2 separate regions of the Homo sapiens genome follow, and region 2 is linked to region 1. Evidence: fine-mapped expression QTL. Tissue or cell type: whole blood. Region 1 holds a variant in brackets; the other region holds the start of a gene. All regions are shown on one strand. Distances are from middle to middle.

The links. PIP is the estimated chance that this variant, and not a neighbour inherited with it, causes the effect.
Region 2: it holds the start of PTPRS, and the variant in region 1 is fine-mapped to the expression of PTPRS in whole blood (TOPMed, PIP above 0.99).

The regions. Positions count from the first base shown.
Region 1 is chr19:5,261,709-5,264,387 of GRCh38, reverse strand. It overlaps PTPRS (protein tyrosine phosphatase receptor type S), which reads left to right. Exons shown (of 38, transcript NM_002850.4): 6 at 1,416-1,424. Among named protein-coding and RNA genes, the nearest start is that of PTPRS, 78 kb to the left of the region's middle. The variant C/A (reference allele first, on the strand shown) is at 1,338.
Region 2 is chr19:5,339,320-5,341,998 of GRCh38, reverse strand. PTPRS (protein tyrosine phosphatase receptor type S) reads left to right here and starts at 1,187. Exons shown (of 38, transcript NM_002850.4): 1 at 1,187-1,335. RefSeq lists a silencer at 980-1,259.

The DNA.
Region 1 (2,679 bases):
CCAGCTTCAATGGGTATGTAATAGGGAGCTATGGAAGGTGGCAGAGAGCATCCTCTACAGAAGCATTAGGCACGTCCAGTGAGAATACAGTGGGGCCCAGACAGGCAGGAGTAGTGGAAGCTGTGTAAGGCAATGGCAGGTGTCCAGAGGTGACAAGTAAGGTGATGGGGAGCCATAGAAAACTACAGGGAGAGAGTCTCTCCAAGGCTGAGCAGTAAGAGGTGATGGCGGGGCTTCAGGTCTGTAAGGGGGCACAGACGGGCAGTCCAGCCTGTCTGTTCAGGCCCTGGCTGGGCTAGGGAGACCTTGGGACAGAGCCTTGGAGACGGGTGGTTCCACCATTGTGTCTCCACAAAGCACCCACATGGCCCATCTGTGGGTCCATCTGTCTGGGGGGCTGTGTCTGCGTGTGTGTTGTCCCCCCGCTTCACGACATGTCCACGTGTGCATGTCTGGGCTCCCTGTGCCGGCCTGGCCTGCCTCCCGCCTGTGGGCACAGGTGTGCAGGCCTGGCTGCTGTCACACACGGGCCTCCCTTCCCCCGCCCGGAGCAAAGTGTCCGCCTGCATCTCGGCCACACGTGCACCCACATTGCAGTCACTCCCGTGCCTGTGCACACAGGGCAGTGATCCGCGCACGCGCCTCTCAGCCTGCACCTCCCTAGTGCTCGTGCGTGGGGACACACGTGGTGGGGATGTGTCTCCATACATTGGGAGCACACGTGTGGCTGCACATGCGTGTTTGTCTGTGTCACGGATTTACTGTTTTCAGTTGTGCCGGGCTTGACGCCCTGCCTTCGTTCAGGTCACTGTTGAGATCACCCTGCACCTCCACACACCCCTCTTTTTGCTTTCTCTCTCCCCTTCCTCCGAGGATCCCGCCACGGAGCCCCCTTTGCAGCAGTACCTCCCCGAATCATCCCCAGCGCCCCTCACTCACTGCCCATCGTTGCCCCCCACCAAAGAGCCTACCTACCTGTTCTCCGCTTTCTGCTCCTCCTCCTTAGTGAAAACCAAGCCCCAAAAAGATCAGACGTGGAGCCCAGAATGTCTTCCTTGGAGAGACTCAGACCTCACACTGGGGGGACAAATCGCCTCCTATCTCCCAGCCTGGCTGAGGATGTTTGCAGCTCATAGGCCTCTGCAAGCAGGGGGAGCGGTGGCCTCAGTTTCCCCATAAAACATGCCTATTTTCCTTGTGTTCTGGTGACCTCTCCAGGATGGAATGTCTAGCGCCTGCTAGGTGCTCAGTGAACATAAGCCACTTTAGGAATCATAAGAAATGTTGTTATTATTATTCTGAGCGTCCCCCTCCCCTCCCCCGCCCTCCCCTCCTCG[C/A]TGAGGACATAGGATTCTTTGTAACCACCCGTTAACGTTCCTGTTCTCTTTTCTTATCCTCCTGTTGTAAACGTTCAGAAACCTTTGGTAAGTCTGATTTCATCACCACGTCAACAACTAACGCCCCATCCCCTTTGTGCCCCTTCTGCTCCCCTTCTCCTCACCAAACTAACAGCCACCGTGATGGTAACTGTGACCCACTCTGCCTGGTATGTTTACTAACGCCCTCTCCCTCCTCCCCGCGACCGGCCCCTCAGCCCTCCCCAGCTGGCACTAGTGTGCGGCAGAGAAAGAAACCCAAAGGAAAAGAGGAAAAGAGACAAGTCCACCCAAAGGAAAAGAGGAAAAGAGACAAGGCCAGGCAGACCTCAAAATGCAGGCTGAGGGGGGTTCAGAGGCATCCTCGGGCTCATGGAACTTCGCACCTAACAACATTTCCTCCCGCACTTTTTTCTTGGCCTTAGCCCTGCTGGAAAAGGATTTAATTACAGAAGTTTGGGGGCTGGGGCTGGGCGTGGAGTGGAGATTTTTCCAGCCTAGCTGCTACTGGGCACTTCTCATCCACTTTTCTCAGCATTCAGCCTGAATCTCCTGAAATCAGTTGTGGGACTAATTCATACTAAAGTGAGAGTGACTGATATCAGCCTATGCTATCAGTCCCTTCATCTCTCTCAGGGTGGGAGGCGGAACACCTTTTAATGGCTAAGGGATACATTGTTTCCACTTGATAGAATAGCCCTGAGTGATTTGGCCAACTTGAAAAGACTTCTTTTTTTTTGAGACAGTCTTAATCTGTCACCCAGGCTGGAGTGCAGTGGCACCATCTCGGCTCACTAAAGCCTCCACGTCCCCGATTCAAGCAATTCTCCTGCCTCAGTCTCCTGAGTAGCAGGGATTACAGGCACCCACCACCACACCCGGCTAATTTTTGTATTTTTAGTAGAGACGGGGTTTCACCATGTTGGCCAGGCTGGTACCCCAAACTCCTGACCTCAGGTGATCCACCTGCCTCGGCTTCCCAAAGTGCTAGGATTACAGGCGTGAGCCACCACGCCCGGCCTGAAAAGACTTTCTTTAACCCTGACTTCCACCATCGTCATCCCAGTGTCCTAGCAAAGGCCAGCCTGGATTTCCGCTGACTCGGATTCCAGTTCTCCAGGGTGTAACTTTAGGCAAACTTCTGTTTGCTCCCCTCTAAAGGGTGCAGAGTGGCCTCACGAGAACACCTCGAAAGATAATTCAGGGACTCCGAAAAGTTCAGGCCAGAAGCTCCTCATCCCAGGAGGCTGGAGAGCTAGGCTCAGTGCCCACCCCTGCCTCATGATGGGACCTCAGAGATTCC
Region 2 (2,679 bases), 78 kb before region 1:
TGTGTTCAACCTACAATAGGGATCTCTGGAGCCACACTGTAGTGTAACTAGAATAAAAACGGGATAATGGGACCAGGCGCGGTGGCTCACGCCTGTAATCCCAGCACTTTGGGAGGCCGAGGTGGACGGATCACTGAGGTCAGGAGTTCAAGACCAGCCTGGCCAACATGGTGAAACACTGTCTCTAACAAAAATACAAAAATTAGCCAGGCGTGGTGACAGCACGCCTGTAATTCCAGCTACTCCGGAGGCTGAGACAGGAGAATAGCTTGAATCCAGGAGGCGGAGGTTACAGTGAGCCGCGATCACGCCACTGCATTCCAGCCTGGGCGACAGAGTGAGACTCCGACTCAAAACCAAACAAACAACAACAACAACAACAAACCGGGATAATGGGATAGAGTGGAGTGGGGCGTGGCTGGTAGCTGTTGTCAGGGAGGGCTTCTCCCAGGCGCTGCTTATTTGAGCAGAAATTGGAAAGATGAGAAGGGGAAGTTCTTGGATGCTCAAGTTAGAGGAACTGTAAGAAGCTGGCTGAGGCGGGAGGATCACCCGAGCCCAACTACTCAGGAGGCTGAGGCGGGAGGATCACCTGAGCCCAGGAGTTTGAAGCTGCAGTGAGCTATGATCATACCACTGTACTGAGGCCCAGGTGGCAGACCCCATCTCTGAAAAAGCAAAGAAGGAGCAGCTGGTTTTTCTGGATCATTGACATGGTGGGGGGGAGGGGACAGGGTAGTGGGCGCTAATGTGAAACGGCGAGCTGCAGAGAGGAGGCGGGATTTTATTCCAAGGGTACTGGGGAGCCGTGGCACAGTTTAGGGCAGCGCACAGAAAGTGCCATGCCCTTTGCACCCAGGACGCTGGGGCTCCCGCACGGACAGTAGCCCCAGGGGCCCTTCCCGCCGCCGCCGCAGCCGCCACCACCACCACCACCCCAGCCGCCCACGTGTCCCGCGAAGCCCCGCGCCCCACGTGCTCCCGCGGCCCTTTAAACACCCCGGAGCCACGTGACCGCGCTGCGCCGTCCCATTGGCCGGGGGGCGTGGCGGCCGCGCGGCTGCGCAGTGACGCGCACGGGCCGGCCCTGCCCCCGACCCGGCGGCGGCGGCGGCGGCGCTGGCGGAAGGGATGACGTCACCGGCTGGGGGGGCGCGCGAGCGGGAGCTAGGGGAGCGCGAGCCGCAGTGAGTGTCCTCGCGCCGCCCGCCCGGCAGCCCGGCCGGCGCGCGCACGCCGCGAGCCGCTGGCGCTCGGGCTCCGCTCGGATCCCATGCAACAGCCACGATGTGAAGCGGGGCAGAGCCGGGGGAGCCCAGCCCAGCCAGCCTCCAGGTAAAGCCAAAAAAAAAAATAAAATCATGGATTAGAGGAAAAAAAAATGCAGGCGCTCCAAGGGGGGTCTCGGAGGCAGCCGAGTGGGCAGCGCGCCGGCTTTGTGCCGGGGAAGCCTGCACGGCCATTGTGCTCGGAGGATGCTCGGCTGCAGCCAGTTGCACGCCCAGCCGCTGCGCCCCGGTAGCTGCGCCCGGACAATGCCCCGAGGGACAGGGCCGGGGCCGCGCTGGGGGCGCTCGGCAGGGGGTGCTGGGGGGGCTTCGTCCGCGGCGTGGGAGGGGGCTGGGCTGGAAGCGCCCAGAGCGCGGCATTGGAAGCTGCCCAGCGCCGCCGGCTGCACCACCCCGGGCTGCGGGCGGGGCAGAGGCGCGGAGGGGGGCGCGCGTGTGTGCGGAGCCGGTGCCGGCCCCGGCGGCGCCCGGCCCGGGTCCCCGGGCGGGTCCTGGAGGCAGGGGGCGCTGTGCCGGGGGATGGGGGGCATGCGGGCGCCCCGGAGCGGAGAGGAGCCGGGACGGGTGGCTCCAGGCGGGGTGGCTCCAGGGCTGCTGCGCCCGCCGCCTTCCCTCTCCGGGTCTCCCTCCCCTGGAGACCCCCTAGTCTACGCCGTCTCCCCTGGAACACTCCGGGCCCTGTCGTTGCCTTATGGGAGGTCGCCCCTCCGGCACTCGGGCATTGCCCCACCCTTCTGCGGCCTCGGCGCCCCCTTCCAGCCTCCCCACCCAGGGGCGAGCCTCAGCCCCCAGCCCCAGGGGCTCTGGCAGGCAGACGCGCACGCCCAGCACCCCAGTCTCCCCTCCGCGCTGGGGGCCCCGTGGGGATCCCGAGAGTGGGGAAGCCGCCCCTGGAACCGCCAGCCCCGCGGGTTCCGCACGCCCCGGGAGCCCCCGGGGGCTGCGGGGGGAGGGGAGGTGACGTCATACCGGGGGCGGGGCCGTCGGCACTGGGTTAAAGGGGGCGCGGGGCGTGCCCTGAGGGGAGCCCCCCAGGTTAGAGTGCCCGCGCCGTGGGTGCGAGGGTTCGGCCAGGTTGCGGCCAAGTTCACCTCTCTTTATGGGAATCTCTCCTAAAATTAAGATCCTCCCCTTCGGACCTCCCCCTACAAATCCTGGACATTTCCCACCAATTCCCCCCCTTCCCAAATTGGGGAACTCCCCTTCGGCCGCTTTCTCTCCAGAATCCTCAAATCAGGGAACCTTTCCCACAAACTGGGAATCTTTTTTTCAGCCACACCCCCCGCCCCAAATCTGGGACCTCCTTCTTCGGTTGACCCTCTTTCCCCAGTCTCAAATCGTCTTCTCGTCTCCCTAAATATGCAGCTTCCAAGAACGCCCCTTCCTCTGC